Linked DNA regions of Homo sapiens: regions 2 and 3 are each linked to region 1. The links come from fine-mapping of genetic effects on gene expression. A gene starts in region 1. Each other region holds a variant in brackets. All regions are shown on one strand. Distances are from middle to middle.

What was found. PIP is the estimated chance that this variant, and not a neighbour inherited with it, causes the effect.
Region 2: its variant is the best candidate, but not a certain one, in a credible set for the expression of PLEKHA1 in whole blood (INTERVAL, PIP 0.59).
Region 3: its variant is the best candidate, but not a certain one, in a credible set for the expression of PLEKHA1 in blood mononuclear cells (TOPMed, PIP 0.54).

What each region holds. Positions count from the first base shown.
Region 1 is chr10:122,370,123-122,377,683 of GRCh38, reverse strand. PLEKHA1 (pleckstrin homology domain containing A1) reads right to left here and starts at 2,976. Exons shown (of 12, transcript NM_001001974.4): 1 at 2,878-2,976. RefSeq lists silencers at 2,369-2,568, 2,579-2,738, 2,759-2,828, 2,869-2,978, 3,119-3,268.
Region 2 is chr10:122,420,557-122,428,117 of GRCh38, reverse strand. It overlaps PLEKHA1 (pleckstrin homology domain containing A1), which reads right to left. Exons shown (of 12, transcript NM_001001974.4): 9 at 3,855-3,919; 10 at 3,159-3,222; 11 at 1,087-1,176. Among named protein-coding and RNA genes, the nearest start is that of MIR3941, 7.4 kb to the right of the region's middle. The variant G/A (reference allele first, on the strand shown) is at 4,453.
Region 3 is chr10:122,391,799-122,399,359 of GRCh38, reverse strand. PLEKHA1 (pleckstrin homology domain containing A1) reads right to left here. Exons shown (of 12, transcript NM_001001974.4): 2 at 6,019-6,179; 3 at 1,386-1,442. The coding sequence starts at 6,159. Among named protein-coding and RNA genes, the nearest start is that of PLEKHA1, 21 kb to the right of the region's middle. The variant AAG/G (reference allele first, on the strand shown) is at 4,146.

The DNA.
Region 1 (7,561 bases):
GAGAGTTCTAGTGCTATAACAAATAACAGGATGCTTTATGTTTACATAAAAACATCCCATATTTTTATGTTTCTAAAAATAATTAAGCATTATAAACAATCATCTAAAGCTACCAAGTTTTCTGCCCTTTCTGAAAGCATTCCTTTCAGACACCATGTCAATAAATTCTTAAATGCTGGATGTGTACTCACAAATGGTCAAAAAACCTAAAACCAAATCTTAATATTTAACTCCTATTGAAGTCATTTTATTGTATCATTGCAGATCTAAAACAAGATTTTTTAATCTTGAAATTTAAATTTTAATATTAACAAAAGTAAACTGCTCCAGCATGAGAAAAGTAATTATTTGCATATTACCTCAGCTCACAGTTGGAATCAAATAGGAAATACTTTAAGGCAGTTAGTTATATCAACCCAAAATTTTCTAATAAAAGCAATGTTACTATTGTCACAAATAATTACTACACTATATTCAGAAAACTATCTTCCCCATTCTCAAATAAGTTATTTAAACAATAATGACTTGACATCAAGCAATATGTCAATGTCAAAGTATGACTTAAATTATATTAATAAACTATTTATTAGATTTCATTCTGGGTTACAAATTATCACACAATTAAAATAACTTCGGGATTTGCAGCATGACTAATAATAATAAAGAACTTCCAGGCTTAAGTCAAAAAGCCACTTTGTTTAAATCTCCATTAAATGTTTTTTGTGGGGGGAAGTCCCCATAAAAATGTAAAATGTTTCCACCTTTCCCAAGTATCTTCCTAGGAGTGGTCAATATTGTCATATCCTATATGTTAGCAAACGATACTTGAATGACTTTTAAAGAAAAGAATCCAATGCTATTCTTAACATCCTTAAACACTTCTAAAAAGGTCCTTCCGGCTTATGAACTCATGGCAGTTTCCTCACAATTGTATACTTATCCTGTTTCACTGTCTCTCCTAGTCTATGACAAACTCAATTTTACACACCATCTTTCCTATTTTGTTACACTGCTAAAACTGGGGAGAAAAAAAGATACAAACCTGCTACTTTCCCCCCTCCCAAAGCGACAATGAAAATACTAATTAACAAGATAAAGATTGGAAGCTCTGCGCGCGCCCGCGCGGTGTGTATACACATATATTTATATTATATATATATATATATATATATATATATATATCTTCTTAATGTCACTAAATTCACAGCCATATATCTTGATACAGGTATACGCTACAAGAGAAAACTGTCAGTAGATACAGTGTAAGGTTTACGGCAGTATAAAATAAATTAACTACTTTATTAATTCAAATTCTGTCAAACTTAAATACTCTTTTTTAAATGTATCAGTACTCTAAAATGCAATTTTCCTTGGGAAAATTGGCCAAGATAAAAAATACTTTAACTCCACTAGGGGAAATATTTCTTTTGCCACAAGTGTGTCAACAGGAAAAATTAAGAGCATGAAAAGTAAACAGGTATTTTGATCAGAATAAATCTTATTATTTTAATATAACGGGTCTTCAAGTTCTTCAGATTGTGAAGAAAAACACAGTTTCACAAAACAATCACATAACTCTTACCCAAACTTTGCTGTAAATGGTTTCAGTGGCATCAAATTAACATAGAAAGTATGCAAGCTGAGTACTTGGGAAAATAAAGCAGATTGATCAGGAGTTCTAAGATGAAAGACAATGGTGTAAACCTCATAGTGCACTATTTGTTCCAGTCATTAAACACACAGGAAATAAGATTTTCTATTTAGAAAACTAACTCACAAGGGGCAATGACTTCATTAAAACAAAGAAAATCTTATTAAAACAACGATCAATTGTAAAATAAGAAAACCAGTACTGCAGAATTGGAAGGTGAAACAAACAGACGAGGAAAACGCAGAAACTGCCTGGATATTTATTTGTTCCTTGAACCTCTTCTTGTACTGCCCCCAGAGAGCAAAGGAGTTTCATTATTTATACGCCCAGACCACGGTAGATGCTCTGCGCGGGGGCACAGCCTCACCAGAATTCTACCAAAGGCGGTAAACACTATAAGCAACAGGACCGCTTTCATTATGACACACTTTCCCCTCTTTCCAGGAGGTCAATAGAAAGCATCTGAAACAAACCACAAACCACTCAAGACGGCCCCAAAGCTCTGCGGTTGGCAGCTGGCCTCGGCGTCGAAAGACCTGGGTCTGGTCGCCTCCCCGGTGCCACCTGCGTGACCTTGGGCAAGTCGCTTTCAACGCTGCCTCTGGCCACCTGCCCCGAAGGTGCGGAGGTAAATCGCGGACACCGCCCGACTTCAGGGCCCAGGGCGGAGCCGGCTTCGGCCTCGGCAAGTCCTGAAGCCAAAATGCATTAAACACCAGGAAAGGATGCCCGGGGACGCGCGCCCCGCGGGCACAGCCCTGGAGGGAGGCGCTCCGACCGGCGCCACCGGGAATCCCCGGGCAGCTGCGCGCACCGCGCCCCGAGCGGGATTTCTCGGGGGGCGGAGACGCCGAGGAGCTCGTCGGCCCCGCGACCGCCGCGGGCCTCCCGCCCTCCCCCGCCGGGCGCCGCTGAGGGCTGACGTCGGGAAAACAATCGGGGACCCACGGGAAGAAGACGCCGCCCCCTCCCGCTGCCCCAAGCCAGGGCAGGTGAGCCGGCCCGGCGGCCTCCAGGTGCTGTGGCGCGTGGCGCGGACGTGCGCAGAGGGGGCGCCGGCTCCGCACTCACCAGCACCCACCGCCCCTCTGCGGACGCCTCCCCGCTCGCCACAGCGGGAACCGCGCTCCAGCAGCCCGGCAGCCCCGCAGCCGCCGCCACCTCGCGCCTGGCCCCGTCCACCACCCCTGCTCCAGCGCGGCCGCGTTCTTCAAGCTAAACTTTACCGCGGCCTCGGCCCGGAGCACCCGCGCCGCCGCGGCCCCGGCTCCCACAGAGGCTCGGCTGCCCGGAGCGGCGTCCGCGACGGCCAGCCCGCGCACTGCGCACGCGTCCCCACGCTGCCTCAGCCCTCAGACGGCGGCTGAGATTCCGGAGCGGGCGCTCCCAGCCCGCAGAGACTACGAGTCCCGGCAGGCCCCGCGCGGGTCCCTGCGGCGTGGCGGGCCGAGTTTCTGGCGTCTTCCTGGTTCCAGCGGCGGCGGCCTCGGCGCGCCGGGGAGGCCTGCGCGCGGAGCTCTGGGCCGCCGCGCCGCGGTGCTTCCTGGTATTCGTAGTTTTTGACCACCACTGGGCTTGGCTCGGAGGTAGAACTCCGGGTTCTCTGATGTCATCGCCTAGAGCTGCGAGGAACAGGGATCTTTAAAAATAGGCTTCGTTAGTTTGCAGATAATTTGTTTGCAAGCTGTCCCATAATCGGTCCAAGTGTCACAAATTTACAGGCTGCGGTGTGACCTGGAGAAAAACGCTTTACAGCTCTGCGCGCCAATTTTTCGCTCTTCTCTCTCCCTGCAAATGTAGCTCCACTGCCTACTTACAATGGTGTTAATAGTACAGGAGGGTAAGAGAGACTTAAAGAAGGGTTAGTCGAAATTCTTTCAGCAACGGTGGAGCATAAATATGTATTCTGGTAAATATTCGTTGAGTGTTTAGCAATTTCTCGAGCACTTAACTGTGTGCCAAGTACGCGATAGGCAACCCGGCATTCATCTGAGAAAGAGACACTGTCACTGCCCTTATGGAGCCTGCAGCTTGGGGGAAACTCGTCCGCAAACTAGCAAAATCGTTCCAGATTTTAATAGAATGGCCAGACTGAGAAAGTTCAAGAGACAGTAGCGGTGGCGGGGACGGGGGGAGGCTCTTCAGAGAGAGTGGCAAGGCAAGTTCTCTGAGGATGTGATATCTGAGCTGAAACCTGAAGAATGAGAAATATTCAGACAGGCAAAGAACTGGGAAAGAATTACATGCCACGCCTTTCACAGCGCATGCCACTCTAGGCTCTTAATAAATATTTGTTCTTTTTGTGTGCTTCTTCCTTTCCTCTCCTTGCACAACCTTAGATCACATCCTATCCCCTTCAAACCCTTTAAAAAATCTTTATCAACATCTTTTAGAATATCCTTCCTATGTGAAAATGTACATGAAACAAATGTCCAGTGGTAAGACAAGCTGTACAGCTGCTAGGACAGAAGACACAACCCTGGTGACAGGCTGGAATCTATCTACTTTGCCACTTTCTTTATTTGCGAACTGGGTTAGAAGTCTGGGGGCTCAGCCTGGCCTCCTGACTTGTTTCTCTTCATGGGGCATCATACAGGATTTTGAGTTTGTCTTTATTAAAATCTTAGAGGAAGCCTACCTGTTATCTGAATCAGAGGTGTAGTGAAGAACAGCCCTAGATTTTCCTGTGTAGACTTACCTATGTGACTTTATGCAGAGAGTGACACTTTGCCCTTCTGACCCTCAGTGACCTCGACTGTAAATGAGTGTCATCCACCCTGCCTGCCTTGCAGAATGTTCTCAGAGTCTGATAAATTGATGGAGGTGAAAACATCTTGCAAACTGCATAGAACGGCTCTCTGACTGCCTCTTTGAGACTTAGCATTTTCAATTGCCTTTCATCCAACGTGATATTTTGGTTATCTTTTGAGAAACCTTAGCTATGCAGCCTTGCTGACATCTGTCCCTTTTGGGGTCCTCATCTGTATAATGGTTGAAAGGGTTTGGCCTCACTATAGTTTATAAAGTAGCCAGAGCAGATTGTTTCCTTTGGTCCACACAGTGGGTTTTTGTTGATTTAACTGAATGTGTGGTTAACATTTAAAAATAAAAATCTAGGTGTCACCTGTCTTATCCCTGTAGGCATTTGAGTTTGCCTTCCCTGGCTAGAAGGTCTGGAAGGAGTCTCTAGCTTGTCAGTGCTAGAATCCTAGAAGATTCCAGATGGGAAATTTGTTTATTTGAAATTCAAAGTCAAATTCACATCTTTTATTTGATCTGAAAATACTGGTCCTGAGAATAGAACACTTAGGCCAAGAGCCTCTCACCCTCTCCAGGCTGGACCCGCCGGATCTCTCTCCTAAATGTTGTTTGACATCATTGATGAGTGGTTTGAAATTGTTCCTTTGGCCAATGTGATGGCTCCTGCTTGTAATCCCAGCACTTTGGGAGGCCAAGGTGGGCGGATCACTTGAGGTCAGGAGTTTGAGACCAGCCTGGCCAACATGGTGAAACCCCCTCTACTTAGCCAGGCATGGTGGTGGGCACCTGTAGTCCCAGCTACTCGGGAGGCTGAGGCAGGAGAATCAACTGAACCCACGTGATGGAGGTTGCAGTGAGCTGAGATCGTGCCACTCTACTCCAGCCTGGGGGACAGAACGGGACTCAAGAAAAAAAAATTGCTCCTTTGTTCTTTTTGCATAACAAGTCCCCAAAACTGTTTATCATTGAGAGCCATATTTACATACAGTAAAGAAAGCCAGAAAAGTAACTCAGTTTGCCCAAGGACACACAACAAGATAATCCCAGGACTGCTTTGAGGTTGCAGTATAACCAGAACTTCATAGCTCCCGATCAGCCAATAAATACAGAGACAAAAAAAAAAAGCTCTCTGCTTTTCTTCCAGCCTCTTTTTTTTTGGATGCAGAGGTTTATTACATAACAGTGCTTTCAGTGCTATTTAAAAAAAAAATAGTACAGGGAAATTACAGTCTGGGAGCAAACCAAGAACACTCAGGACTCACTGAAGGCACTGAGGAATGCTGGAATATTCCATGGCTACTTTTCATCTGAAGAAAAAGGAGGAGTCTGAATTCAAGGATCTATAGTTTAGCTGTTTACTTTTTTTTTTTTTTCTGCCGGAAGGGACAGAGTCTCGCTCTGTCGCCCAGGCTGGAGTGTGGTGGCACAATCCCAGCTCACTGCAACCGCTGCCTCTGAATTCAAGTGATTCTCCTGCCTCAGCCTCCCAAGTAGCTGGGATTACAGGTGCCTGCCACCATGACAGGCTAATTTTTGTATTTTTAGTAGAGTCAGGGTTTCTCCATGTTGGTCAGGCTGATCTCGAACTCCTGACCTCAAGTGATCTACCCCCCTCCTCAGCCTCCCAAAGTTCTGGGATTACAGGTGTGAGCCACTGCCCCAGCCTGCAGTTTACCTTTAAAGTATCACTGTCATCATTATCATCATGCTTTGCACGTGTGAAGTACGTTGATGTTTCATTCAAAAATAGCTCTTGGGCCCCTTCCATATGCTTAGTGCTGGGCTCTGGGGCTTCCAGACAGACGTCAGCCCCTCTGACAACACAAAAAGCAGCGTACAGAGGCACGCAGAAAGCTCCTGAATGCTAGTCACCTCTCTAATATTTGATGTCTGCAGCATTTCCTGCATTATCTTTTTCCCCTTAGCAATGGTCACTTTTGTACATATTATATATGTGCATATATATTTTTTTTTCTGCATATCCCTCTAAACTGTAACCTCCACGTGGCCAGGGATTTTATGTTTTGTTCCTGCTTGTATCCTTAGTGCCTACAACAGAAGTATGTGTTGAATGATGAATGCCACAGTCCCCTTTATGGACAGAGCCAGCATCAGAAGCCAAGCAGAAGGAGTACCTCCAGAAGCAAACCTCTGTTCTAACCAGAAATCAGAACCAAGATAGAACAAGAATTAAACATGAACTGAACACTCTCTGAACCCGGCTTTGTTCTTTTTGTGTCCCCTCCAGAAACTGGGTAGCAGAGAGTTAAAAACGGCTTTTCCCTATTTTTTAGTGTAAAAATGGCACAAGAACTCCAGGCAGCGAGTCAGTGGAGTTGCTTCTGTGGGTGAAGAGTCGGAGCTGGCTTTCTGACCCTGCCTCACAACTGGCAATGACCAAGTGAGGGGAAGCATGATTCTCAGTAATCACCCCAAGCAGGCACAGATTAAGTGACCTTCCCAGATTACCAATCAGGTGACTGGAGTCTCCTTCTGGAGCTAATTCTTGCATCCCAGGGCTGGGGCAGAACAATCCTCCTTCAGGAAGGTGCCACGAAAGATTGTCCACATTTTATGCTTACCAAGGTGGAAGAATAGGATTTCTGAAAAAGTCAGCAACCAGCCCAAATTCCAGGCCCACACAGGAAAAAAAACAAAAAACAAAAAACAAAAAACTGGGCATCCGGGGAGATGCTTGCCTCCAAGACTTGTAGAGAGCAGAACTAGGTCTTTCCTGCCTTAGGATTATCAGACAAGGAAGGGAGCCCAACACTGAACATCTGGGTTGGACAGGATCTAAAGTTGCTGAAAGCCACTGGAGTTCTAAAGGTCCCCAGCAACCCTATGATCTCTGGGGGTCTGGTGGGTTCCAGCTGCATCTACACCCTAGTTAGGTCATACATTAATTACCCTGACCACATGTGGCAGGCCTGGGATGGTGGTAAACCCTAAAATTGCAGAGCACAGGATGCTTGCTGTCATCCAAACATACGGACTCTTGCTCCAATGTGGTGTGAAAACTTGAAAAACAAGATTTTCTGAATCAAGATGATCATCCAGGGCCACACTTGGGTTGCTAATTGCAGCACTGAAGTAGGGAGCATTCTAGAAGGTGAAGACTCCTTGCAAACAAAGCTGGGAGAGAGGATC
Region 2 (7,561 bases), 50 kb before region 1:
AGACACTGTTTTTGCAGAGAGTCTCATACTTGACTGCTGAAAAAGTCACATAAAATACAGGCAGTTACAAAATGAACATCTATGAAAGTGACTTCTTAGATATTTCAAAAAGGATATAAAGAGAGAATGACTTAACAACTAAGAAATCAGAAACATTGATTTCTATTTATTTATCTGTAGTTATCACTACCAGAAAACTAATAAAAGGCGGTATTATAATACTATCAGAAAAAAATATTAAAAGTGTAAGTAACTAGCATATATGTCATAGTAAATCTAGATAATAAAGGCTATCATGCTACATATGAGACTACTTTCCGCAGATGGCAGTGTTACATTTTAAGATACTTTAAATTTTCAGACCTGAGATCAGTGGCCAAAGTATTCCAAATGCAAATCTAATTCTTATGTACTTGAACACAAGAAAAATCTTTTAAAAAAATATTTCTGAGCAGAATGTTTAGTTGTATTTCAATTTTATTATCATACTACCACAAAGATAATTATGGTAGTTTTCAGAAGCAGGCTGTTAAAGCAGGTTTTAAAATGAGAATTAAAACATGAAATGGAAACACTGGGAGCACTGAACTGTATTTAAGGCCCCAGCTGCTCAGTGATCTGATGGCATGGTTAAGCCAAAGGTAAAAAACAAAACAAAACCAAAAAACCTGAACTGAAATCAGAGGAAGTAAAGAGGAAATTGAGACGTTCACAAAACTGTGTAACGCTACAACTAAAAGTCTTACATGATCCTGATCACACACCATACTAAGAATCTGTCAGATTATGCCAAATCTAGAGCTACTGACAAGTAAGAACTCCTAAAACAAAGCAAGGAAATGTTTATTCTTTAGTTGCCCTACTTGTGCATTTAACACAATACAATGCACAGAAAGTTATGTATACATAATACTACAAGGAAGCATTAAATTAGAAATGCATTATTTTTTGCAAGTCCAATTGGTATAAAAGTCAACATGCAAATAAATCTCAAGAAAGAAAGAAACCGGATGGATTGGGAGAGAGGAAATTTGATAGGATGGGGGAGACGCAAGGGAGTATCACCCCAGAGAGCAGGAAACCTACAGAAGACGCAGATCTGCCGGGACCCCGCTGTGCTACAATGGCGCCAGAGACTGCTTTAATCCAACTGTGCATCTCTTCAGGGCTATCAGCCTAAAGGAAAAAAGAACTCATTCAAACAATTTTTTCTCAAAATCACCTACTTCTATACAGCCAATGTATTTATTTTGATAACTTAAAATACTGTCATCAACAAAATCACTCTAAGGCAACTGTTTCCAAAAAATTTAGAAATCATTTTTTTAAAGCCAGGTTTTGCTAGGTCTTAACTACACAGAGACATAAATTGAGCACTTCAATGTCAAGATCAGACCCATCAACAGGCGTCAATAATGAATACCTCCAGACAGAAAACAAGGAGAGGAGGAAGTCCAAGAAAAACCCTTCTTATTTCACTCTACCTACTGCTACACTGTCTGAATCTGCTACAAGAATATTTATGTAGTTGTGTAATTTTTAAAAATTCTGACATTCTTTTACATATTTTTCTGGAAATAATTTCTAGTAGTACCCTAAATCCTACAATAAGTATTGACAGATACGTCTGGCTTTCAATGTGAATTTTAAACCTTACTATGAAATTAATCCAATTAAATAAGGCCCCAATCGGGGTGCAGAGATACTGCCTCTTGTTTCTAGATTCTAGAATCCCTTACACTTCTAGAATCTAGAAATATGAAAAAGTTTAAAATGCAGAATATTTTTGAATAAGTAATATTAACAAAGACTAAAAAAAAAAAAAAATACAAGTAGCCAAAGGTAGAGTATACTTCATTCATTACTAATGGAAATACAATTCTAGAAATCAATTTGACAAAATAGAAAGGGTCATGCTCTGATAGTTAATCTCGATCTAGAAACTTACCCTAAAGAAATCAGGCAAAGTAATGCACAAAGATGTTTTTCATCATTTTATTACAGTAAATGTACAAAAACTATGCACATGAACAGAGTAACACAGACACAATACAGCAACAGAGTAATACAGACACAATTTACTGGTGGAACATCAATGGAGTATGGTGCAGTTCTAAAAGGTTTTCAGATAATTTTTAATGACATGGGAAAAAAATAACAATATATGAAACAAATAGGATATAACACTATATTTAGTATGACCCCACCTATTATAAAAATATATACCTTAAGAAAGGGAGCAAAATCATAAGAATGGTTGCCTCAATGTGGGACTGAATGTTTTATAAGCCACATTTTTCTGAAATCTTTCTATATTTTCCAAGTTTTCTGGAATAAGCATATTTAACTTCAATAAAACAAAAACAAATCATCCCTTTTTGATTTTTTTTTTTTTTTTTTTTTTGAGACAGGGTCTCTGTCACCCAGGCTGGAGTGCAGTAACACGATCTCAGCTCACTGTAACCACCTCCTGGGTTCAAGCGATTCTCGTGCCTCAGCCTCCCAAGTTGCTAGGATTACAAGCCTGCACACCACCACGGCTGGCTAATGTTTGTATTTTTAGTAGAGATGGGGTTTTGCCATGTTGCCCAGGCTGGTCTCGAACTCCTGGACTCAAGCGATGTGCCTGCCTTGGCCTCCCAAAGTGCTGGGATTACAGGTGTGAGCCAACACAGCCGGCCCAAATCTTTTTTTAAAATTTTCCATTTAAATAATTCAATGAAGTATGCAAAAAGTACAATTTAAACTTAAATACAGGATGCCTACTATTAGTGAAACTATATAAATCTACTGTCTACTTTTACTATGGGTTTTTTTAATAAGGTTACCAAAAAATGATATAATAGAAAAATCAAAATTCTAAAACATGTGCAAAAATAATCCAACTTGAAAGTACACACTTAACATCTAAATTAAAAGCATTTCCCTTTCTCTAAATACTTAGTTCTAGTTCACTAATTCATAACAAATACTCCCACTTCCTGAACATATAACCCCACCAATAACTCTATATACAGTACCCTTTTATTAAGCTGGTGAATTACAGTTGTCATATTTTTTTAACCTCAAGTGCAACAAGCTTGTTTATGTTTATTTCACCTCTAATATTATTAATTTCTTTTTAGGAGGATCTATTAATTGCCAAATAAGCATCTTACCTGCACATAGAAAGTTCGAGACGTTGTTACAATTTCAAAGAGGTTGTCCCTCATCATTATGTCGCTGTATGAAAAAAAAATCCAATTATACTTAAATAGCAGTTGTTTGAGTTTCTCTTTCATTTGTTTACCCAGTACCCAGTATGCGTCAATAAATAAATGAGGTAAAGCACTGATTTAGCAAACCCAAATTATCTTTTCCCATTTATTTTAATGTAAGATTTTACATATTTCATGTAGTTTCACTTTTAGAAAAAGTTCACAAAGCAACTTTAAAGTTCAGAGTTTTTAGTAATCAGTTTGGTGAAACACTGTCACAGCTAACACATTTTCTTGTGAAGCTCTATTCTACTGCATCTTTTAAACACTTAATACATCAATTTGTCAAATCTGATGGCCTAACCATAAGTTGTTCACATTAAATTTATTCCTTTCCATTAGTAAGCTGTTTCTGTATTTTTAGTTTTCAAAGAAACAAATAAACGATTCTTTCCTAATTTTTAGTTTTCAAATGAACAAAGTAGTTCAATACTTTACTCTGAGGGTTTTGAAAATTCTAGTGTATCTCAACTATAAAGAGTTAAAAATAACTACAATTAATATGGAAAAATGTAATCTGTAAGTACATTACTCAAACTAAGGCACTATTCTGTGTTTATAACTTGTGCCAGGCATCAAGTCAGAGCGGTTCCTTACCTTTGCTTACATTCCTGGACTTTATGAACCTCTTTAAGTGGTATTACACGAAGAGGTTCCTTTTCCTGGCAAAAAAAAAAAAAAAAAAAAAACAGTTACATGATGTTTATTCTTAAAATCCTTTCAAAGGTTAGCTGTCTTATTTGAAGACCCATGTGAAAATCACACTTCTTTTCTGAAGCACATCTCAGAAATAAATCTACCTTCTTAAACCATCCAGCATCTGAATAGCTCAAACACTATAACCTTATATACACTGTTGTTTGAAACAAGAAAAACTGCATACGGCCCTTATTCACATTATTTCTGGCCTTAAGGGCAGTGTAACTAATTAAAAGCTATTAGCCATCAGACTTTCCCCGACGGACCCACGTACCAGTATGCACAGCATCTCCTTTTCTGGAATGTCACTTTGATATACAAGGCAGCAGAGCAAGTGCACATCCTGCTTCTTTGACTTAAATTTGTGATTTTACAAATATCACTTTTATATAAATACAAAATTGAATGTTTACTAAGTGCTGAGACATCTGCTAGCTTTTAAATGTTTTATCTCACACTTTCCCCAACCCTACAACACATGTACTACTATTCATGT[G/A]CTGAAACTGCAGATTAGACATGTTAAGTATCTCACCCAAGGTTACAAAGTAGATATAAGATACAAATATAAAACTGGTTCCTAATAGCATATTTCTAGTATACATTCCATAAAATACAATATACATATTTCATTGAATATGACAGCGTGAGATTAAGACATACCATTACTTTATGTAGCACCAAAAATAAAACTAAACCATGACAGAGTGTTGTTGTTTTTTTTGTTTTTTTTTTTTTTGAGATGGAGTTTCGCTCTTGTTGCCCAGGCTAGAGTGCAATGGTACGATCTTGGCTCACTGCAACCTCCGCCTCCTGGGTTCAAGGCAATTCTCCTGCCTCAGCCTCCCAAGTAGCTGAAATTACAGGCGCCTGCCACCACGCCCAGCTAATTTTTGTACTTTTAGTAGAGATGGGGTTTTACCATGTTGGCTAGGCTGGTCTCAAACTCCTGACCTCTGGTGATCTGCCCACCTTGGCCTCCCAAAATGCTAGGATTACAGGCGTGAGCCACCACGCCCAGCTGGGAGTGCTTTTTTAAAAAAAAAAAAAAAAATCATAGATCTTTTTTAAAAAGTTTTACAAAATAGTTTAATTTTGAAATAATTTCACACTTAATAAGAGACTGAGAAAAACAGTACAAAGAATTTCTGCATAACCTACACCTTGTTTTCTAAACTGTTGATATTTTACATTTGCTTTATCATTATCTGTTTATGTTTATATATGTGTGTGACAGAGTATATGTATATATATAGATTCCTGAAATGCTTGAAGGTTAAGTTGTAAATATGATGTACCTTTACTAAACGCTTCAGTGTGTATTTCCTAAAACATGGATGTGCTCTTGCATAACCACAGTGCAATTATGAAAACTGGAAACTCAACACTGATGCAATACTATAATCTACAGACCATCTTCAGATTTCATTAATTGCCCTACCTGTATTCTTTACAGCACAAAAACCATTTTCTGATCCAGAGTTAAATCCAGGATCATACCATGTATGTAGCTGTCATGTCGCCTTTAACTGTGGAATAGTTCTTCATTCGTTTTTCAGAGTTTAAAGAAGTGCAGGCCAGTTATTTTTGTAGAACACCTCCCAGTCTGGGTTTGCCTGTTATTCGTGCTGAGATTCAGTTTATACACTTTTGACAGGAAGCCACAGACATGACACTGTTCTTCTCAGTGGACCACTATTAGGAGGTACACACCCGATGGTGGCTTGTCCTGTCACTGGTGTGTTAACCCTGATCTGTTGCTTAAGGTCATGTTTGCCAGTAGCTGTAAAATTACTTTTTCCCTTTGTCACTGTTAAGTATCTTGTGGGGAGATACCTGGAACCTATAGTAATACCAGGTTTCCCATCATAATTTTGCAACTAGTTTTATCAAACCCTGAAAACTCCTGCCTGAAACCATTACTAGTGGCTGCCAAATGGTGATTTTTCTAACCCCATCAATCCATCTACATATATTAAATAGAATTTTACTCTAAGGAAATATTTTTCCTTCTCCATTTATTTATTTATGACTCATTTTTATTCTATGGGTTATATTCCATTACTATCATTACTTATTTTGTTGTTTAAATTGTCTGCATTTTGGTCAGCTCCTTCAAGGTAATTTCTGTGTCCTTTTGACATGTTCCATTCATTCTCTGAGCCACTTCCTTATCCTCTGGCACAACTTCACTTTCTGAGCTCAGCTTGTACTTTATCTGCCCCAGCTCTGAAATCAGTCACATCACCAAGGGTTCCTGATTCCTTTTGTTTACAGAATGGCATTTACAGTTGCTTTTGGGCAGGGTGGGTGGGGATTTGCCAATCTCTTAACTCAGCCACAACCTTCTCATGACAGATGAGAATATTTCATTGCAGTTTTAATTTGCATTTCTCTAATTATCAGTGATGCTGAATTTTTTTAAATATTTTAAGACCTATTTTAATTTTTAAATGAATTGCCTATTCATGTCTTTTGTTCATTTGCCTACCAGGTATTTTCCCCTCCATTTTCTCTCTTTTTTTAATCTTTGAAACAAACACGAATTTATACAAGGATTGAAAATACAGCATAAAGAACTGATTTTCCTGAACCATTTCAGAGTGAGTTGCTGACCTGTCCCACACTACCCCTGAATACTTTTCCTACATTCTCTTACATAATCACAATACAATCATCAGAATCAGAAAACTGTGCCCAAAATGTCTTTTATTAGAGCAAAAGAATTCAGTTCAGAAGCACGAATACCATCTGCTTGTCAAATATTTTCTTTCCCTCAGTCTGGAACAGTTCCTCATTATTCCTTGACTTTCATAATCTTCACTCTATGAAGATTGCAAGGTAGTTATTTTGTAGAATGTCCCTCATTTGGGTGTGCCTCATGATGGGATTCTGATTACATACCTTGGGCAGGGATTTCACAGAAGTGATGCTGTCTTCGTCTTCCACTATCCTGTCAGGTGATTTCAATTTACCTCATTACCAATGACATTCACTTTAATCATCTGACCACCTGAGTAAAGTGGTATCTGCCAGGTTTCCTCACTGTAATGTTATTCTTTTCCCCCTTGTACAACACTTAATACCTATTTTAGTAGACAGGTACTTTGAAACTATGTAAATATTTCATTCCTCATCATACATACAGATATACATCCATTCACCAAAAAGTATTGTTTCTCTGACAAGATTTGGCTTCTATTATCCTTAATATAGTTCTTGATTTTATCAATCAGTGTGTATGTGACCATTCTCCCATCTCTGCCACCACCCCTCCCCATGTGGATGCCCTTCTCTCCCTACTCCGCGTGGGGCTAACCCCCCAAGAGGACAGCCTCCTTGTCCTGCGTGGGCTCTGACACCCACACAAAGCTACACTGGTTCCTCTTGGATGCCTATGTTGCTTTGCCTCACCTAATAAATTAGAGTCTGAGTCATTTCAGATTGATGGAAGGAAAAGAGAGCAAAGTAGGTGAGGAAAAATCCCCTCAGTTTTTAAGATTCCTTGTAAGTTTTATCTCTAATACATGTTGCAAATATTTTCACCAATTTTTCGGCTGTGCACTTAAGTCTTTTATACTTATTTTTAAAATTTTTAAATGATCTTT
Region 3 (7,561 bases), 22 kb before region 1:
AAGTACCTCCCAGAAGCTCATTCACAACTATTGCCATGCTGTTGTCCAGTGATAGAACTTATAATTGTAGCATCCGTTTTGCACCTTCAAAAGGAATTCTAAGCCTGGGGTTCCTCATTGATCCCAACTACAAACTCACAGTTCTGAGTCACACAAAAGTTTGTTCCAGAAATAAATTTTTGGAACAATAAATTTTTTTTTGGAAAAAAAGTGGTACGTCCAAAGTAGAGTACAAACTGCACAATTTAAACTTCAGGAAGCAGGAGGACAAGATGAAAGTTACAGAACTGCACAGAAAAAAGGTTCTATTTTAAAAGAAGAGCAATGGAGGAGAGGAAAGCAGCTGGCCAGTTACCCCACCTACTTTACTGATTTCAAGAAAGAGCTTCCATACAATATTTGTCGTATGTAAATTTACATAGTATGATCTTAACAGAAAAATGTTTCCTTTTAAATGTGTAATCTTTATTGTCCAAGGGCTCTTTTCTTTTCTTTTTGGTCAATGAGAATGAATACCTCTACTGTAATACTAATATAAAGTATTTTATTTATATAACATCTATCTTCTAAACAGAGGCACATTTGTAAATTGGTCTTCTGTTGAAGTGATCTACCTTTGCCAACAGATCTCAGTATATGCATAACAGTACCCATATTATTTAATAATACTGTTGCTACCTTTTGCATCTCATATATAAGTAATCAACAAACTTTTATTACTTTTATGTAACACACATGCACACACACACACACACACACACACACAAACCCATAGGGTTAGCACCTCAGCATCACTTAGTTCCCTAAACATTAATAGAAGAAAATAAGAAAAAAATGTACCTGACAAACATAAAATCAAAATTTTAAAAAATAAAAAATAGTATTGCAAAATTACCAGAAAAACAAATAAGAAAACAGAAATGAAAAGAGACAAAGTGAAAAGAGGGGGAAAATCATCCTTTCAACATGAAAATGGTCCATATTTTCCTCAAAATAAAACATTAAGAAACAAAGTATCAAAGACAATGGGATTTAAAAGTTGAAAACAGTCTAAATAAACATAATACAGACTTAGAAAAATCTCCAGACTTTCTCAAGATAGAATTTGTTTCACTGATTTCTCCCTTTCTGATGTTCATATACCTGATCATAAAAGTTAATGTTAACTTTTGCAATTTGCCACATCCTGTAAGTTAAAATCATATTCTTCATAACTGTATCGATTTAAAGAATTTCCTAAACGTAGTAATCAGGTACCATTTCAGTATGATAGGAATCTGAACATCACTGTTAAAGGACATGGAAAGGAAACTGCTGCTTCTATTCATACTCTCATTCACAGGGATTTTAATTCACACGAGTATAAGACAATGTATAAAGACTACCTTTGAAATGTAGGTAAGCTTAATGGCTCCAACACGTGATGATCCAGAAGGTAGGTTCTAGAAACAAAGTATTAATATATACTTAATATCCAATATTATGAATTCATTTTATAATATAATGTTCCACATATACTTCTGAAAAGTTAAAAACTCAATTTTTTAATATCACATTTTACAAATGAACTTTTCTTCTGTTCAAATTTTTACTAGGTCTGAAATCAAGTCCATAGCTTGGATAACAAAACTGAATCCTACTCTGTTCCATTATCATGCATTCTATGACTAAAAGGCTATTTTTATCACTGGAGCTAAACTAATACTTTCTCATGAGCTTAAAAAGCCATGAACAAGATCAGATTTTGTTCCTGAAAGCAAGGGGGAAATATTTACAGGCAGAAAACAAATATAATTGTAAGATACTTAAAAAGACTATACATATTACTTTGTTCTATTAAAATTTCTTTATCAAGTATCTCTTGACAAAAATGGACTGCATTTCCCCCCATTTAAATGGTTTACTGTTTTTTATGCCATATTAATCTACATTGATACTTTTTTTTCCACAAAAAAATGTTTGCTTCTCTTTATCATATGCAGGGAATGTAGGCACTTTCACACACAGTATTTTCATTCTTCCCGTAAGTTTCAGATGTGGTTTGCATCAAAAGAGCTAAAGGTAAACATAGAGGGAGAATCATCTCTGGTTGAAGCTATCCAGAAAGACTGAAGTGATGAACAACATTTAGGCTGGAGGTTAAGGAAAATTTTGAAACACAAAAAGCAGGGGAGAATATTCCAAGCAGAGAAAATGGACAAACTATAGCAAACAATGGAAGATGCACAGCTCTGTACTAGAAAGAGAGAGGGGGGCTATGTGGGGCTGTAATGCAGTGTCCTGTAAGATTGTAGTACAAAATGGTGGTCTGAAAACTTGAACTGAGAACCTAATCATAGAGGACCTAAATAAAAAAGTAGCAAAGAATTTATATCGTAGAGAATTTGAGGCCAACGAAGAAGGCTTATGAGCAGATCTGGAATCAAAATTATGCTCTTTTTATAATATATCTTATAATAAACTGAAGGGATTATAGAAGAGGAAGATAGAGGTAGGAAAACCAGACAAAAGAATCTGGGGAAAACAAATCAAGAATATAAATTTCATTTCTATGATAGAAGACTGATAAAAGACTGATAGAAGATTTCAGAAGTAAAAATGAAAACATTAGTTTTAGTTGATTTTGAAAATTATTTCTGCTGGAGATAAGACAGGATCAACTTTTCAACTGACTTTATAATAACGTACTTAAAAATATAAAAATCTATTGGCTTGTTCTAATGAATGATTAGGAGGTAACTGGAAGCCTAGACATTTCAAAGACTTAAGAGTCCCAAACATGAACTGCTTATTGTTGACAGGGACAGATCTTTTAAAAACTTTCACACCTATATATTGTAAAACTCCATTAATTATGTTCTGCTTTAAACTATATACTACGTACAAGCTTCCAAATATAAATCATCAATAGTAAATATGCATATAAAATAAAATTATAATTCATTAATGTATAACATTAAAAAGCTATTTGTATTCTTATGTATAACGTTTTAGATTTATGGGTTTTTGGTTTTTAACTTTAAAGAAGGAAAAGAAATGTAAATATGTCTTCAAGAATCTCTAACTACCACCAAAGTGATTTTTTCAAAAACTGTTACCCTTCCATTTAAGGGTAATAATTTATTTCTTTTCAGTTTTTCATGAGCCTATTATTTTAACTGCTGAATAGAGCTCTAAGCCTTTGTGGAAGGAAGACAAATGAGAAACCAAAGCATGACATAAAGTGTCACAGTAATAGTAGTACACTATGGGGAAATTTAAGTAGCTGAGAGAAAAACAATATTCAAAATACGCAGTTTCTGTGGACTAGTATGATTACCATCAGGTTCGACTGGAAAAAAATGAGATTCAAAATTTGTTACTTGACAATGAACAAGAAATAACAAACTAATAGAACATTTAAGAAAAAAAGGGAAATAGGCCATTTGTTGATTATGAGTTCCTAAACTCATTTTGCCAAATACTTTTTCGAATATCTTCAAATGCACTCCCTCGTACAGCAACTTAATTATTTCATTCTCCATGATTACCAACCTCCTGGACAAAACACAGGAAGCCCCAAAGTGATCCCTAATAAACACTAGAAAGAATTTTTAAACCCATGGTTAGTGGTAAAGGAAGCAGTGGTCAGGGGAAGAAGTGGCTTCCTAATAATAGAGGAATCAAACTAATTTTCTTTCTTTACCAAGGTTATTATGATCAGTATAACCATGTTATTATACTTTGACATAAGCAACTAGATTGAACCATATGACATTGCCATTTTTTTAGTAATTCAAAATGGCTGTATATTAGCAATTTCATATGGTTCAATCTAATTGCTTATGTCAAGATGCAATAACACGGTTATACTGAACATAATAACCTTGATAAAGAAAGAAAATAATATAATAATCTTAGCAAGACATTTTACTAAAGTTTTCAAGAGTAGGTATGTCTTGATTATTACATTTAAAAGTGACACCAAGTTGGTACTAATGGCTAATACACTGGCTGGCAGAATCAAGATTTCCTAAGTTGGAAAGAAGATATAAAATTAATAAGAACAAACTAAAAAATATTTAAATTCTGTACTTAAAAAAAAAACTGGCACTGTGTCCAGAAAAGCCAATGCATTAATTCTAACATAGAGATCTGGATTTTAA[AAG/G]TTTATGTGGACAAGACCTAGCTGAGTGCTATAGCCAAAGTGATCTAGTCTCCAAACACGCCATAGGCTCTCTTGCTTTGATCTCTGCCCACACTGTTCTTTGAGCACTGGAATACTCAACTTTTCCATCTCTTAGCCAATATTATATCCAAACTTCTAAGTCAATTTCAAATGTTACCACTTCCATGAAGACTTCAACTCCTTCTACTAGCTGTGTAACTTTCCTCTGAATTCCAAGTTCAAGTTTTATTCAGGGTAATAAATATATTCTATTTTGTACTTAACTCCTTTTAGCTCTGCTAAATGGGTAGTACTGATAAAGGAAGAATGACAAGAAGAATCTATTATGTAGGAACACAGAAAAATAATCAAGGAGCTTCAAGTAAAATTCAGGAGAAACCATACATATGTCAACCAGACCTTGTGAAGAGAGAGAAAAATCAGGGAGAGAAAATAGGCAGAACTGTGCAATGGCTCATATGGGTGAGGAGAGGTCCCTTACAACTCAAATTCTACATAAATAAACATACACACATTAGTATCTACTATAGACACATATATATCTTGTCTAATCTAAAATCAGTATATAGTGAAGAATACTAGACTACTTATCAGCAGACCTAGTTCCTGCTCTGTGAAACAGAACAGAACCTTGTATAAGTCTCTGCTCTTCCCTAGACCTTCCATTCCTCACCCACACGAGAAGCCTACTGGACAAAAATCAGCTTAGAAGTCTGCTAGAGATTCATCCCTTGCTTTGCACATACTTCCTTGCAACATACAACCCCATTTTTAACTTCTACACCAATTTTTATTTGAAGATAAAAAGTTCCAAAAGGCCGGGCGCGGTGGCTCATGCCTGTAATCTCAGCACTTTGGGAGGCTGAGGCTGGAGGATCACCTGACATCAGGAGTTCAACACCAGCCTGGCCAAGACGGAAAAACCCTGTCTCTACTAAAAATACAAAAAATTAGCCAGGTGTGGTGGCACACCCCTGTAGTCCCAGCTACTCGGGAGGCTGAGGCATGAGAATCACTTGAACCCAGGAGGCAGAGGCTGCAGTGAGTCAAAATCATACCGCTGCATTCCAGCCTGGGTGATAAGAGACTCCATCTCAAAAAAAAAAAAAAAAAAAAAAAAAAGTAGAGAAAGTTGAAAGTTTAAAACTACTTCACAGATGATATCTAATCTCAGGCCTCTTAAGGCTGGGATTCCAATTTTTTAAATTGTAGCATTTACCCCTGTGTTTTGCAAGGCAACAATAAAATCAAACTGCATTTCAGTTCATGGATGGCATTACAATGACTGACTCAAATCTGACACTACAAAATAAAAGGACTACATATGTGCAAGAGTATCATGTGGTTAAGTCATTTATTTATTTAAAAATAATAGTCTCTATCCTAGATGCAGCATCTTAAACCTAAATTTAATCTCACTAAAGGGACCCTGGTATTAAGCCTCCTTAATGCAAGAAAATCATCTATCCCTGGTCTTTATTTTAGCTGTTGTTTGAAATACATGTTACAAAAAAAGTATTTCTTATTTTTGGGACAGCTTCAATTGTTATTTTTTTCTGTGACTCAAGTTCTAATTTTCTAAAACCTAATTTGCCACCAGAGAGAGTATTTCTCTCTCGAGGGAAAAATATATACAGAAGCATTAATTTTTATCAAATAAACTTAGTTTCACCTTCTGAAATTCAAACAAAACAGTAGAGGTCAGGGGTGCAGGGCAGAGAGGACAGCCAGTAGAAATAAATCTAAAAATATACTGCTTAAGAAGACAAATCTAAAGCCTGTATAGTATGTTAAATACTTAAATACAACTTTCTGTGCTTTTAAAAGATAATCCTTGGGATTTTACAAACCTGTGGATTATCCATGTACCACACGAAACTATCTTCTCTGGTATCCAGTATGAAGTACCTTCGAAGAAATTTCCCACTGTTTTCATTTTCTTCAATGTCTAGAAAACCACAAATGCGATTCTGACGATCCACATAAGGCATTTCTGAGCTTGAACATTACACTGTAAAATAAAAATATTAACAGTAAGCTCCCTATGAAACAGGAAAGTATTTCTCATGGACTGCAAATCTGTTCAATGAGGGGGCAACTTGCCAACATTAGGTAAGGTCAATTAAAATGAACACACACCAACATCTGAGGCATTGACAAAAATCACTTTTGAAATTCAGTTTGTGAAGAGTGGTTACTAAATGTAACTATTTATTCACTGTGATGGGGACAACAGAGAGCTACTCACCTCAGCTGAATAATTTACTTACTTTTTCCCTAAAAAAACCCCAGGTGAGCCAAAAAAAATAGTTATCCAAATTTTAATTTCCTCACAAATCAAGATAATCTATCCTTTAGATTATTTTAGAATATTTTTAAATTCACAAAACAACAAAAGTTAAAATTTAGTGACCACTTGCTACATGCTAGGCTCTGTACAAGGTTCTTTTCCATATGTTAACTCTTTTAATCTTCTAAACAATCCTAGGAGTAGGCATAATCATCCCCAGCAGATAAGGAACTTAATACACAGGGGAAGTGATTTTCCAAAATTCCAAAACTAGTAGGCCAAGAGTCAAAGCCTGAATCCAGATTACCGCACTCTAGATCTCCTATCTTATGCTCTACACCATCCTCTCTAAAAAACCCTTGAATTGTTAAAACTAAAGTGAATCAAAATAAACTAGTTAATGTACTGGAAAGAGAGATAAGCAGGTATGATGTGCCTCCTGATGGAAGACACAAACATCACCTATCATGTGAACATAAAGCAACAAGAAAAAATGTTTTTTAGATCCCCTCTATATCCAAATACCAACCTACAGGAGATGCAGAACACAGAGGAACATGCTAAACTGCACCAAAGGAATTCAATCAGCAAGAGCCAGACTATAAGAAACAAAGGAAAAAAAAAAGTTTCTTTAGCAAGTAAATTATTACAAGAAAAAAAAGAAAAAGAGAGACATTATAGATTAAAATAGACTTAAAAGGTGTATCATATTCTGGTCCTAAAGTACTGCAACTTTTATTGTACTGATTAAAGTTAAAAAACCATTAGGTGCCAAGAACTGTTTCTCTAGAGACTACAGACATGTGATTCCTTCTTGATGTGATGCTTAGCCCAAATCTGCACCAGACAGCTGTTACTATTCTGGTACTTCTATAGCTGGCACCATCACATCTTTTGGCAGGATGAATTTACATAACTATTTATTTAGAGGCTCAAGGTAAATTTAACTTACAGTGAAAATTCAATTACAATGCACACTGATATACTATGTATCTGCATCACTATTCCATATGCAGTCAGAGAAATGATAAAATACACCAAAAAGTTTTAAATAAAACCATCCAATAAGTTTGTGTGTTGTTGCTGTTATTGTTCTTATAAAT